Linked DNA regions of Homo sapiens. Each later gene encodes a partner of the first gene's protein in a complex. Each region holds a gene or a part of one and is shown in the gene's direction. Other genes may lie near its edges.

Evidence for each region.
Region 2: the proteins of SNTG1 (region 1) and TRPV3 are in contact, whole or in part, in a crystal structure (PDB 7QQN), measured with the Homo sapiens proteins. Residues at the interface, in NP_001274742.1 of Homo sapiens: Arg62, Gly66, Gly67, Phe68, Gly69, Leu70, Ser71, Ile72, Lys73, Gly74, His78, Ser85, Lys86, His118, Glu119, Val122, Arg126; in NP_659505.1 of Homo sapiens: Pro786, Glu787, Thr788, Ser789, Val790.

The regions. Positions count from the first base shown.
Region 1 is NC_000008.11:49,907,010-49,914,414, forward strand, and holds the start of SNTG1 (gamma-1-syntrophin), read left to right. Parts: upstream 1-4,397; 5' UTR 4,398-5,222; intron 5,223-7,405. UniProt on the Homo sapiens protein: Adapter protein that binds to and probably organizes the subcellular localization of a variety of proteins. May link various receptors to the actin cytoskeleton and the dystrophin glycoprotein complex.
Region 2 is NC_000017.11:3,554,811-3,561,682, reverse strand, and holds the start of TRPV3 (transient receptor potential cation channel subfamily V member 3), read left to right. Parts: upstream 1-3,870; 5' UTR 3,871-4,007; intron 4,008-6,830; 5' UTR 6,831-6,832; coding exon 6,833-6,872. UniProt on the Homo sapiens protein: Non-selective calcium permeant cation channel. It is activated by innocuous (warm) temperatures and shows an increased response at noxious temperatures greater than 39 degrees Celsius. Activation exhibits an outward rectification.

The DNA.
Region 1 (7,405 bases):
ATGTATACTTATTAGAAAGGGGTATAGCTACTAGGCAATTAAAAACTATTTTATACCCTAGGCCAAATTGGCAGCATATCCTATGAGGATTTTTTTTCCCAGTGGTTAGCAACTTGCTTCTATGAATGATTTGTTGAGCTGTGAAGGGATTTCCATAGCAGTGAAATCTTGTGTGTGGAATTTCCACATATATGTATACAAATTTTATCTACACCACACTTCAAATACAGCCATATTTACTGCTTGATGTTAATGAACAATAAAAATTCTCTGCAGCACTGTTCCTGTCAGAGAGGCATGGAGAGATCTTCTAGAGAGTGTGCCATCTGTCACATATGGACAAAACCTTGATCCAGGTGCTATTTATTAACTCTACTAAATAAGTTGCATTATTTTCATTTTAAAGTGAATAGACTCAAAAAGATTAAGTAATTTATCCAAGTGGCAGAAAGTAGCACTCTTTGTCAAGTAAGTCGGTATTCAACTTCAGAATTTTTGTGAATAGAAAAAACAGAAATACAGAAGAAAATGCTTAGGGAACTACTCTCTAAAATGAAATGTCTCTCCTAGGCAGTTGCAGTTAACAGTATCCAATTTTCTAAGCTTCTCTGGCAGCCACTTGTTACCTCCCGCAAAAGAAAAATTAAACTAATCTGAGGGACAGATTTTTGTACCTCAGTCATTTGAGTACAAATTTCCATCTACTTTTGCCTGCTACTGAGGTTAACTAAGTTCAACTTATACAAGTGCAAACACCCATGAAGTCCTCAAGATTTATCTGACCACAATTCAGCAAAATAGAACTCCTTAGCTGAGTAGAGGTATGATTGAGTAAGGGATCTTATATTCAAAGGGGGCAAAAGAAAATACAACTCAGTAACATTTCATCTGAAAACCCATAGAAGGAGATTTTAAAATAGGATCACTGTTCCAATTCAGAAATAATTGGTAATAGATATGTAATATTTATTTGTACTTGGACACAATTTAAAAAAGCAGCTCAAAATTATACTGAAGATGTTAAAACTGTTAATTGAAAAGGGTTCAGATATGGGTATAGGCCTATTACAGCTCTATATCTATTAGGAAACATGAAGTAAACACAGAAATAATTAGAAATATATATTAACAAAAAATAGAACCTTTAAATGGAACCACCAGTTTTTCAATTGAGGTCTAAAAATTGTGAGCAAATGATACTCCACAGATGATAGGTGCTACTACCTATTTTTGTAGAAATATACAAGATATACAAAGTTTTTACATATGTTGATTTTTGCATATGACAGTTTATGAGGCTGGCAAAAATTATGATTATTATCACCATTTTACATATAGTAATGAGATGTGAAAATAGGAGGCTTCCGGAAGTGACACAGCCAACGTTTCACATAGTGTATAATGACGATTCATTTAGATCATATTGTATGGCGGTTTCAACTTACATTTCAAACTTCCTGACCCAAAGGACTTCCAATTGTTTACAAAATGTTCCACAAACTATTATGTTTTCTAAGATTTTTGCACTGTGTAGAGTGGACTAGAGGGGAATTATATCCTAGTTTTATAGAGAGGGATTGAATGAGCCAGTTTAGAATTCACAGTAATGATGCTAGGTTACTACATTTTCTTGTGCATATAATGCTTCATGTATTGTTTTGATTATTTATATTCACATTTTACTATATTTACATTTTTAAAATCATGGCAACTTAAATTAAGAATTTTTTTAAAAAATCATTTAAAATAGACTTTGGAAAATCTGCTCCCGGGGTGAAATTTCTTAACATAATTCTTTAATTCACCTCAGCTTATTTGTCCCTTGGTTTTTTTATGTTGTACTTCATTTATATTCATTTGTAGCATCAGATGTTAGGCGGTATTTAATTTTCATCATCTTGATTTCCATAACTGGTTATACAACTTGATGAGAAAAAATATAAAGTGGATTTTGCTTCTTGAAGAAAAGACATCAAACTATCATAATCATACTGGGACTGTCAGTTCACATTAATCAACTGTTTCTGTTTTCTTTTACTGGCAGGACAGAGGGAGGGGGATAGAAAGATTGAGAGAGACCGCATAAAACTCAATCAGTGCTCAGGAAGAAAAGAATCTGTTCTTCTAGGTCTGAATAATCAAGTGCATATGTTTTTAATTAGCAACATCTTTGTACTCTGTGCTTCATTTAAATGCTCTTATTTGGTGTGTTGATTTTCTGTGGTTATTCATGTTTCCGTATGTCCTGATAAAATAATTTAAACAATCAATTAAATCAACCTTAGTAAGCATAGAATTAAATACAGCAGAGAAAAGCTTCTTTGCTGACAAGGACGGATAGCCCCTGATTAGCATAACCCTCACACGGGGGGTTTGTTTTAATCATCTAACAAAAAGGGGGCATTTTCTGAAACACACACGACAGGTATTGTTTCTGCAGAAAAAAGAAGCACGTGTTTCACCACATTTGTCTAAGGAAAAGGGAAACTTCATTTACCATAACCTTAAGCAACGTTTTCACATGGACTGAAAAGCAAAAGACCCCCTTAAAAATTAGCCTCAAGCAGCAGATACTCTCTTTTTAGGTTTGTGTGTCTCCGTGAGGTCAGATGGATTCCCCAAACACGGTTTTAGAGAGAATCACAACCTTTAATAGATCCTCTGTTAAAAAAGACTGTTAGAGAAAGTTGACCAAGGGCTTCGTTCCACGGCGACCGTTTCCTGCGTGTGCAGCTCCACACAGCGACCGCGGCCTGCAATGTGCGGAGCACAGCGCGGCCCCTTCCAGCCGGAGCTCGCGAGCCGCGGTGGCGGCTGGTGGCCACCCCAGGGAAATAAAGCCGTTGCTGCTGCAGCAAAATGGCTCAAAGTCCAACCAAAGTCTGGCCTTTTCCTGTGAGTAAATACGCGGCCTGTTTGGTTTTCCGTCCCGAGTGATTCCCGGCTCAGTAACGTTTCTCCTCCAGGGAGCCCACTGGAACTCCACTGGCTGTGCCGCCTCCTCGCCCGTCCCCCGCGCGCGCCGCAGGCCGGTGCTTGGAGAGCGCAATGTCCCCGGGAGGGAAGATCCCCTACCTGGAATGGATGGTTCCAGACCAGCGGGAACGCGCTCTAATCCTTGATGGAAGCAAGCGTGGGAGGAAAGCACAACGTCTAGGACTTCCCTGTAGTGTCAGAACAGGAAGAAGAACCTGAGAAGTCGCCGGGGAAGGGAGGCCAGGAGCAGGCGTCCGGCCCCTTCCCACAGCCCGGGAGAAATTAGTGTTGCGCCCCGCCCCTCCCGGACCCCCGTCCCCACCACACACACCAGCGCCCCTCACCAGTCTTTCTCGAATTTCCTCTCATGTCTATCAATAACCTCCTTGTGCAGAAATCTACACTGCACAAGTTAGGAGTCTGCAAGGGCGGGCGGTGTTACAGTCTCGCTCTTTCCATTTTCCCCTTTTACTCCACATAGTTTCAAAGGTCCACATGGCCCTGGTTTTGACCAGTTTTCCAACAGTTTCAACGTTATGTATTTCAACTTCCCGTCTCAGTTCACTGGCGTCTGCACCCGTTGCCGAGTGTGGGTGGCTGAGCCCTGGGTGACAGCACTCGGGACCACGCACCCATACCCTTCTTTATGCTCGTTGTCAGCCAGTTGCCAAGAGCGGGAGTGAAGAGCCTGCAAGGCCCGGGAGAGCGCGGATTCCGGAGTAGGGAGGCGAGGGGGCAGCGTGGGAGACCAGAGGGAAAATGGGCTGAAAAGCCAACAAAAAAAACAACGTAAATTGGGCTTTGCTCTGGCTTTACAAAGGCAGAGATTGTCGAGCCCTCTGACTGTCTTTGTGCCTTCTTTATCCCGTCCTTTGTGAAATAAGCCGTTTTCTGCCCCCACTGCAGGAGCCTAGGCTGTGGGCGACTCGCTAGCACTGCCCTGGGCCTCCAAGCTGCCTGCTCGCTGAGCTCAGCGCTGACACTCACAGGAGCTGCGTTCGCCGGATCCTCTGAGAGGCTCTGCAACGATCCCGATCCAATTCAGCAGCGTTTTAAAAGGTAGCCGAGTGCAGATGCTTTTTCCTGTCTTTTTCATTCTTTCATTCTCTGTCTTTTAAAATTTTAACAATAACCTATCGTTTCCGCGTGGAGGGTCTAAGAATCTTCACTGGGTTTAATTTAGGAATTTCAAATTGGGTTTCTCAAAATTTGAATGTGGTCCCCTTAATTGGTAATCAAGATTGCGGAGTTTTCCAAAATATTCCTTTTCATCTTATGTAATTAAAGATCCACGAGCTTTCCAAAGAAGCTCTGGATTTTCCACGGTACAAATCTATATATTTTTTCTCTCTCTTCCTCTCTCTCTCTCTCTGCCTCTCTCGTGCGTGTATGTGCGCGCCCCTGTGCGTGCGTTTTCTTTCATTTCTGGCATTAGGAAACTCGTGCAGGGCCACTGAAAAGTCAGGGGAGGCTCAGATGTTATTTCCCAGGGATTCCTGTTTTTCCAGAAACGTTGTCACCAAATAAGTATGAGACTGTTAATTTGGAGAAACAATTAGCCCCTACAAAAAAAAAAAAGAAAGAAAAAAGAAAAAAAAAAGAACCGGAGGGGAGAAGGCTAGGGCGGAAGACAAGGAAGCTGCTGCTTGGATTCGCTGGTGGAGGAAAGTGCGACCTGGACCTGCGCTTAGGGGCTCCCGTCCCCTTACTTCAGCACCAGAGGGGATGGACAGCGTCTCCGGACTGAGCTGCAGCCACAGGGACGGAACTACGCTGCCGCCGCCGCTGTCCTTGCCGCCACTGTCGTCGCCACGGGCAGCTGGGCTACTTGCTCCTCGCAGCTAAAAGGCGGTGCCTCCTATTACCCCCTCGCCTCCCGGCCCCCTTCCTTAATGGATGAAAAGTACCCCTCCCTCTACACCTGCTGTACCTAAGGACAGGACTCTGAGGAGTACTCTTGCTCCACAGATTAAACTCTCAGCAGCAACTTCAAGAATCATTTTTCTATAGGGGTCTGGGAGGAATTCTGGAGGAGAGTAAAGTCGAAGTTCTTAGAAGCTCTGAGAAATCATGGGCCGTGCGGTAGGGGTTGAAATGCTCAAAGGTCCACACTTCTTGAAATAAACAGAATGGTCTTGAGTGGATTGCAACTGTTTTGGAAATAGCTTTGTGAAAAGAGGGTGGAGAGCTACTCAAAATTCTACGTTAGAGAGACTGAAAAGACATCTAATTTCATTGCTCGGCAGGTAAGTGATAGCGCTATTATTTTTGTTTTTTAAAATTCTAATGACTTGTCTTATGGTTTAACAGAAAGATCATAAGCAGTGTAATTTTTTCTGGGGTTAACGAGGAGACAAGCAATTTTGTTTTAAAATAATTGTTTCTGGATCATTGTGTGACAAGAAGAATCAAAATAACATACATGTTGCCTTACATAATTACAGTAAACTTTTAGCTGGCCATTTTTCTTATTGCTTATCTAATATCTTTTTGGATCTGGCATATCTTGTTTATTTTTTCCCAAAACTAATGCAATCGTTTGGCAAGATAATTTTGTTGTCTTATGTATGCCATAAAAAGTGATCCTGTCTGTGTTACATAGTATGCAAGACTAAAAAAGTTAAAATAGAGAGGGTTTAACCATGCCCTCTAACATATTTTATATTGTTATAATATACTAAACTATGCATGGGAACAAATACATGTATACATATACACCAGATTTCTCACTCCATGCCAACCTCCAAGTATACCTACACCTGTAGGATCTTACGTAAGGAGACACTCATATTTTTACTTAGCACCCTCTTTCCAGCCTTTGAAAGCTCAAGATTGCTTTCTCAAACCTGATCTGCCAGAAAGCAGAAAATGAGAAGCTTTAGTGTGCCTCTTTAGGAGAGCTGGATTTCAAAATCATTCTAACTTATTAGTTCTGCAAAATACATTTGTCAGTGAAATCCAGAAAGTGATAGGGACCAGTAGGTTCCCGAAAAACCATAAACTTTAAAATGCTAATTAAATCTGTTTTCTGTTGATTCTTATTTCTAGTTTTCCCCTGGAGCTTTAAAATTACAATCTTTCACAGTGACCTTGATAAGCATTCTGCTTTAATAAAAAGGGTTCACTGGGCAAAAGCAGTTACACAAATTTGTAACCCGTGCCTGACATTTCACTAAGAATCCGATCAATTCCAATGAGTACATTCAGTTCAGTGAAGAGTTTTGACTTGCAAGGATGGAATTTTACAGTCATGTAAATACATGTGATGAGATATTCATAATCAACTCTGTGAAAAGAGTCTACCCCTTTGAAAAATTACAGGAGATCTTTAGGTTTTACTTTTAATTTCACTGGTTGTGTGTAACGATAGTAAAATGGCTCTAATGCATATCTATACGTACCTTCCTTCTCAATTTTAACACAAAAATCATTGGAGGCCGTTACAGTGGCATTCATTGGTGGGGTGATGTCCTCTTGTTTTATGTTGGCTGAGTGTAGCAATTACTCTGAGGAAAAATCATTCTTAACTGTCACCACTTACCATGAACCTGCTTGCTTAGCAGAAAAGGAGCAGAGGCATCTATGTCACTGAGCTCCTTGGGGGCTCCGTTGCCCTATATAGGTCAAGAATGATTATCTGAGGAGGAGAAACATGTATTATTGATTTGGATTCCTTCCCAGAAAACCTACAATGTGCTCTTAACACAATCCTTTTTTTCCTCAGTGGGAGAGGTATGGAAGTGAAATTATCACATGGAAGACTTAATCATATTTTAAGAGAGTTACAGCATGTCTTTAGACAATTATTTTGGCTGTCAATTAATTAACACAGAGGGACTCCCCTAGTCAGTAGGGCATAAAATGTAAGCAGAGAATGTGTTTCAAGAAGCACTCCTCTGTGTATATGGCCGCAGTTCCCTCCTCAGGGGCAGAGGGGGCAGGCTTTCTCTATGTGTAACTGAAATCTCACAAAGTGAAAGTTACCTTTGCCTAATCCCTTAGGAGATTTAGTCACAGAAATATGTAACTCTAATTCACCCCAAACTCATGAAACTGCATGGAAACCCTTGTCAATCCTTATCTGTAGGGAAATGTCCTTACATTGAGATAGAGTTTGGGAAAGCAACTTAATGCCTACCAATGCTAATCTCTAATTGTAAAGTAGATAGTCAAACAAACAAACAAAAAGGGGGTAGTGGAAACCAATCTTCATTATTGCACAGAATCACTTGTCTTTAAAGAAAAATCAACATTTTATTAAGGGATATCTGTACCCCACTAAGGGCATCTATTTGCTTTGATAGTTATTTTGTTTTGCTAAAGAAAAAGGATGCATGAGGTCTTGGGAGTACCAAACACACTATCTTTTCCCCATTAAAAAAAAAAAAAAAGTTTTATTGGATAAGACTAAGTGTTGTTGGCTGTTGCT
Region 2 (6,872 bases), on another chromosome or scaffold:
GGGGTTATAGATTCCATGGGTTTTGACAAATGTATGACCTGCGTTTATCATTATAGTATCACACAGAGGAATTTTATTGCCTAAAAATCCTCCATCCTCCACCTATTAATCCGTCCCTCTCTCCAGCTCCTGGCAACACCGACCTTTTTTTTTTTTTGCGACGGAGTCTCGCTCTGTCACCCAGGCTGGAGTGCAGTGGTGTGATCTTGGCTCACTGCAAGCTCCATCTCCCAGGTTCATGCCATTCTCCTGCCTCAGCCTCCCGAGTAGCTGGGACTACAGGCACCCGCCACCACGCCTGGCTAATTTTTTGTATTTTTAGTAGAGACGGGGTTTCACTGTGTTAGCCAGGATGGTCTCGATCTCCTGACCTCGCGGTCCGCCCGCCTCGGCCTCCCAACGTGCTGAGATTACAGGCGTGAGCCACCGCGCCCGGCCAACACTGACCCTTTTTTTTTTTTTTTTTTTCTGAGACGGAGTTTTGCTCTGTCGCCCAGGCTGAAGTGCAGTGGTGCAATCACGGCTCACTGCAGCCTCGACCTCCTGGGCTCAAAGATCCTCCCACCTCAGCCTCCTGAGTAGCTGCGACTATAGGTGAGAGCCACCACGCCTGGCTCATTTTTGTATTTTTTGTAGGGATGGGGTTTCGTCATGTTGCCCAGGCCAGGTCTTGAGCTCCTGGCCTCAAGCAATCCACCTGCCTTGGCCTCCTCAAATACTGGGATTACAGATGTGAGCCACCGTGCCTGGCCAGCCACTGATCTTTTACTGCCTTTTCCAGCATGTCATGTAGTTGGCATCATCAATACAATACATAGCCTTTTCAGATTGATTTATTGTACTTAGTATTATGCATTAGAGTTTCCTCCAGGTCTTTTCGTGGCATGAGAGCTCATTTCTTTTATTGGAGGATAACATTCCATTCTCTTGGATGTAGCACTCTTTTTTTTTTTTTTTTTTTTTTTTTTTTTTGAGACGGAGTCTTGCTCTGTCGCCCAGCCTGGAGTGCAGCGGTACAACCTCGGCTCACTGCAAGCTCCGCCTCCCAGGTTCACGCCATTCTCCTGCCTCAGCCTCCCGAGTAGCTGGGACTACAGGCACCCACCACCATGCCCAGCAAATTTTTTTGTATTTTTTGTAGAGATGGGGTTTCGTCATGTTGCCCAGGCCAGGTCTTGAACTGCTGGCCTCAAGCAATCCACCTGCCTTCGCCTCCCAAAGTGCTGGGATTACAGGCGTGAGCCACCACGCCTGGCCGGATGTACCACTCTTTATCCATTCACCTACTGAAGGACATTTTGGTTGCTTCCAAGTTTTGGCAATTATAAGTAAAGTTGCTATAAATATCTATGGGCAATTTTTGTGTGGGCATAAGTTTTCAGCTTCTTTGAATAAACACCAAAGAGTGTGATTGCTGGATTGAATGGTAAGAGTATGTTTAGTTTTGTAAGAAACCACCAAAGTGTCTTTCAAAGTGGCTGCACCGTTTTACATTCCCACCAGTGATGGCCGAGAGTTCCTGTTGCTCCATGTCCTCACCAGCATTTGCTGGTGCTGTCAACATTTTGGATTTGGGCCATTCTAAAGAGTATGAAGTGGTCATTTTATCTTTTATCTTTTTTTCTGTTTCTCTCTGTGTGTGTGTGTGTGTTTAATTTAAACTTAATAGCATTGACCAATGTGTTGTATGCATTTACACTATAGCATGTTATATTTTTGTTCTGATCATATTCCTTTTCACTTTTCCATTCTTTTTCTTTTTTCTTTCTTTCTTTTTTTTTTTTTTTTTTGGAAACGGAGTCTCGCTCTGTTGCCCAGGCTGTACAGTGGTGCAGTCTCGGCTCACTGCAACCTCTGCCTCCTAGGTTCAAGCAATTCTCCTGCCTCAGCCTCCCGAATAGCTGGGACTACAGTGTGCAGCACCTCACCCCGCTAATTTTGTATTTTTAGTAGAGACGGGGTTTCACCATGTTGTGGCCTCTTCCCTCCTTCCAAGTCCAGGCAGATGCTCCCTCTTTCCCGAACTCATCCCCTACACCCCATCACAGGGACTTCCTCCCGCCTTGGGGGTCTCAGCCCATTTTGTCCTGATGACCCACATGGTGGGTCATGGTTCCTGCCTGAGCCTGTGTCCCCTGTGGCCCACGAGGGTGGACACGGCCTTCTCCAGTTCTGAATCCCTCGTTGTCCACCTGCGCCCTTGCCACGGCCTCTCCCGTGGGCTCTCACCATGTGCTGGGTTAAATGGGGTTGAATATAGACCATCTAAGGGGCTGAAGCTGCTGCTTCTGTGTGTTTGGGGTGGGATTAGGATGGGCTCGGGCTTCCTAAGTAGTGACTGTGACTCCACTGGGTGACCTGGCTCCTGCTGCCTCTCATAGCAGAGCGGGGGTCCCCTTCTTCCTTGCTGGGCACAGGGCACACCTCTGGGTGGGAGACAGGGGCCTTTTTCACCAGCTCCCACCTGCCCTCTGAGAAAAGTTATGAACACGAGCAAAATGGAAGCACTGACATTTGGCAGCAGCTTCCTCCCCAGGCGTCTGAGCCGCCAGAGGCAAACAGGGAGGGCGCGGGGCTGGGTCGGGAGAGGGTGAGTAAGCTAGTGGCCGGAGGCCGTGCTCAACCCCAGATCGGGCTTTTCCGGTCGAGTTTCAGGCACAGTCATGAGATTTCAGATTGTGAGTGGGAACTTCAGGACCCCCTGACTTCAACGGCAGAAGCGGTCTCCTGCTTCACCCACACCCTCAAGTCTGGTCTGCCCCTTACCGGCCATAGGTCCTGCTCTCCCGTGGCCTAGAAGCCTCACCTGCCTCCTGCCTCCTCCCCAGGCCAGGCAGGTTGTGATGATGAGGGATTGAGAGGCTCACAGCTGGGGATTTCCCTGCCCATCAGGCGCCAGCTGCGGCCGCGTCAGCAGAGACTTCCTGCTCTGTCCCAGCTGTGTCTTGTCCACATCTCGCCCCGGGGAGCAGGTGTGCAGTTCCTGAGTGACGCGAGACACACACGGCCATCCTGACTCACTCCACCCACTTCACAGCTGCAGCCTGGGCCAGGAGAGAGGGCACCGATTCCTTCTATGACGCCCTGGCCTTGGAGAAGGGCAACCTGGGCAGTTGCTGGGAGAATACATTGAGATGACAAAAGCAATCATAGCTAAGAGCTGACATTGTTTATTGAGTTCTTGCCGTGCCCTGGGCCTTGTTCTGGCCCTTTCTACTTGTACTTGTTGAAGCCCCACGATAACCTTGCAAAGTGGGTTTATGAAGCACGTTTCACAGATGAGGAGACTGAGGCTCGGAGAAATGACCTGCTAAGGTCATTCAGCCAGGAAGGGGTGAGGCTGACACTAAGGGCCATGATGCGTGACTGCTGGTGGACAGCATTAAATGGGGACTTCCGTCCCCGAGAGACCTGATCCCAGGAACCGACTTTTGAGAACAAGTGCCGAGTCTTGGGGCTGGCCACCCTGAGGTCAACCAGGCTAGGCCTGGGCTGCGGTCTTCCCTCCCAGGGGACAGAGCAGAGCGCTTGACTCTTCACTAGGCCCTCCCACCTCTGTGATCTCTTTGGCTCTTCACGGCTCCCTTGGAAAGTAGATGTTATCATTCCCATTTCCTAGTTGGAAAAATAGGCCTGAGATGGGCAGTCCCTGCCCAGCATGGAATGCCAGAGAGGGAGGAGTTGGACCCACAACTTCGATCTTGGCACCTGCGGCCTCCCCTGCCTTTTCTCCGGTGGGGATGAGGCTGCTGTGTGGGTGTGGGGGTGACTCACACGGGCCACGTGGGTGGGCGGGTGCTGCAGCTGTGGCTGGTGGGCGTGGCCTGCCTGGCGCCGAGGGCAGGTGGCTCAGCCAGTTCTGCCTCTGACGCCTCATTCCAGCCATCCCTCTGCCTGCAATGAGAGCTTCCCGCCGCCTCAGCCACAGTCCCACCCGGGGGCCTTGGGCCCCAGACATGCGGTGATCTCAGGGCAAGGGTTGCCACGACCACCCAGAACCTCACCAGGTGAGTCTTCTGTGCACAAGGCAGCTGGTGATCTCCAAGGCCCCTGGGGAGCCCAGAGCGTGGCCCTCAGAGGTCCTCTGGGCCATGTCTGCCCTTGGCCAATAGGCCTTGGGAGGAGGGTTGGAAGGAGCTTGGGCCCCAGCCAGGGGCCCACTCTTGGCTGTAGGGAGGCACTCTTGGCTGCACTCTTGGCTGTAGGGATGTGTGAGAATATAGGTCCTTACAGACTCAGGAACATTCCCCTGAGGTTTGGGAATCCTGGGGAGGGACATCTCAATCTCACCACTGCTGGGGGCAGAGGAGAGGCTCCTGCCTCCCGAGGCTGACCCAGGGAGGTGGCTTTCTGGGGCAGGATTGTGATGGGAGTTCAGGATGGGAGGAGGTGGCCCCACCGTGGGAGACAGACGGGGCCCAGGCATCTCACAGGTGCTGAGTCAGCAGCTGTGGCTCCGCGGCCTGGTCTGTCGCCCGGGAAAGGCCATTTCAATCAGTGTCAGGGATTGGGAGAGAGAGGGAGGGCCAGGGCAACAAGAGAGTCCAGCAGGTGAGAACGTGGGGTTTACGGGGTGACTCAGGGAGCTAATGATAGCTGCTGCGGCCCTAGTCCAGAGTTCCCTGAGCCTCTCCTGCCCCAGAGGCCCAGGGCAGGCCACATTCTCGGGCCCAGAGAAGAGAGAGAGCAACCAGCTCTCAGGGCCACAGAGTCCTTGGGGACCATTCAGCCCACTTCTCAGAAAGGAAACCAGAGGCCCTGGGAGGGGCAAGAGACGTGCCCTTCTTCTGTCTCCTTCACGCTCGGTGCATCCCAGCCTTTTAGTCCACCAAAGGCCACGTGGGGATGGGGAAAGCCATAGAGGCTGCCCATCCTCATCAGGCCGTGACTGGACACGGGAGGGCCGGGTGCCCAGGAGTCCCTCTCTGTGGGCTACTCCACCTGCCTGGCCTCAAGGTTGCCTACGCTCCAGGGCCAAAGCTCTCCCTCGCCGATGCCTCCTCCATCCTGAGCCTGCTCCCTTTGAGTTGGAGGGCGGGGGACTCTCTCCAGCCTGATGACACCTGGCTCCGGAAACTTCCTCCAGGAAGCTTTCCTATTGGGGTAGGATCACCAGTGGCCCCAGCTCCACCCCACCCAGCTGGGTTCTTCTTACAGAAATCCGTCTTCCTGCCCCCACCTATGTGTCGCCAGGTGAGTCCCCTGAGGATGATTCAAGCTGAGAGTGGCACCCCCTGACCACACAGTCACCACCTGTCCACACAGCCCTTTCCCCGCCCATGTCATCCCTCTGTGGCCAGCTGGCCCCCTTCCCCGTCCCTATGGCCCCTGCAGCAGCCTCCTCCTGGCCCCTGGCTTCTGGTCTCCCCCACCCCCCAACGCAGCCCGCGCTCTCCTATGTAACCCAGAGCCTCTGCACCCAACTCCCAGCTGCCCCCAGGGGTCAGCCATAGCTCCTTTTTTATGTTTAATAAAAACTTTATTTTTTTTTTTTTTCATTTTTTTTGAGACGGAGTCTCGCTCTGTCGCCCAGGCTGGAGTGCAGTGGCACAATCTCGGCTCAATCCAACCTCTGCCTCCTGGATTCAAGTGATTCTCCTGCCTCAGCCTCCCGACTAGCTGGGACTACAGGCATGTACCACCATGCCCGGCTAATTTTTTGTATTTTAGTAGAGACGGGGTTTCACCATGTTGCCCAGGCTGGTCTTGAACTCCTGAGCTCAGGCAATCTGCCCACCTTGGCCTCCCAAAGTGCTGGGATTACAGGTGTGAGCCACTGTGCCTGCCTGAAGCCACAGCTCTTATGCGGTGTTCGAGGACTATACAGGGCCCAGCCTGCCCGCATGGCTTTCGCTGGCAGGGTCCCCATGAGCTCCCCAGGTTCTCTGGCCACAGCAGCTCCCCCCACTCCTGCCACTCCTGACCCTCCCAGGCTCTGTCCTCTGCCCGGCTTGTCCTTCCTCCACACAGCAGCCTGTACGGTCTATCCTGGTCTTGTTGGAAGATGTATCAGTCCCCCTTCCCCAATCCCCACACCCCTCGGAGCTCAGCACGGTGCCCAGCCCACATTGAGCATCAGTAAAGCAGGTCTGGACTGGGGGGTCGGCCTCCTCTGCCTGGGGCAAGGGGACTCAGCTGCTCCCTGCAGGTGAGAGGGGAATCTAATGGACAGGCAGCCATAAGCTGGTTACACACAGCTTTGGGTGGGCGGGGGAGATGATCGGTGTGTTGGCTGCAGAGACCACCTGGACACTGAGGAATCCAAAACACCTGAGGAGCTTAAGGCTGTGTTACTAGGAGCATAACATCTAGAGCAAAGGAGGTGATAATCTTGCTCTGTGGAGGTCAAAACTCTTGGAGAGCTGCTCATCACAAAATCGGAGAGGGACCTCAGGAAAGCAGAGCTAGTGCTTAGGAGTCCGCCTGGGACTGGTCAGCTGGAGAGGGTGTCATGAGAGAGGACAGGGGCATGGTGGTCTCTACCGGGACACCCTGCTGGACTCTCCACTAGTTCAGGGGTCCACCTGGGGACTGGTTGGCTGGGGAGGGTGTCATGAGAGAGGACAGGGGCATGGTGGTCTCTACTGGGACACCCTGCTGGGCTCTCCTAGGACCATAGCATTTGGGGGTGCTAGAGCAGGGAGCTGGGGAAGCTTTGGGGACAGCTTCTCTGTCCTTGAAGAAGGATTGGTGAACTGGGAAGGGAGGAGTGAGCTTCCAGTTCCAGGTAGTGTGAACGGGAGCTGGATGCAGCCACATGGGGCCCCTAAACTCCCTGAAGCTCCCCCTGTCCCCCCGGCCTGAGCATCTGCCCTGTGGTTGTATTCCAGCCATGAAAGCCCACCCCAAGGAGATGGTGCCTCTCATGGGCA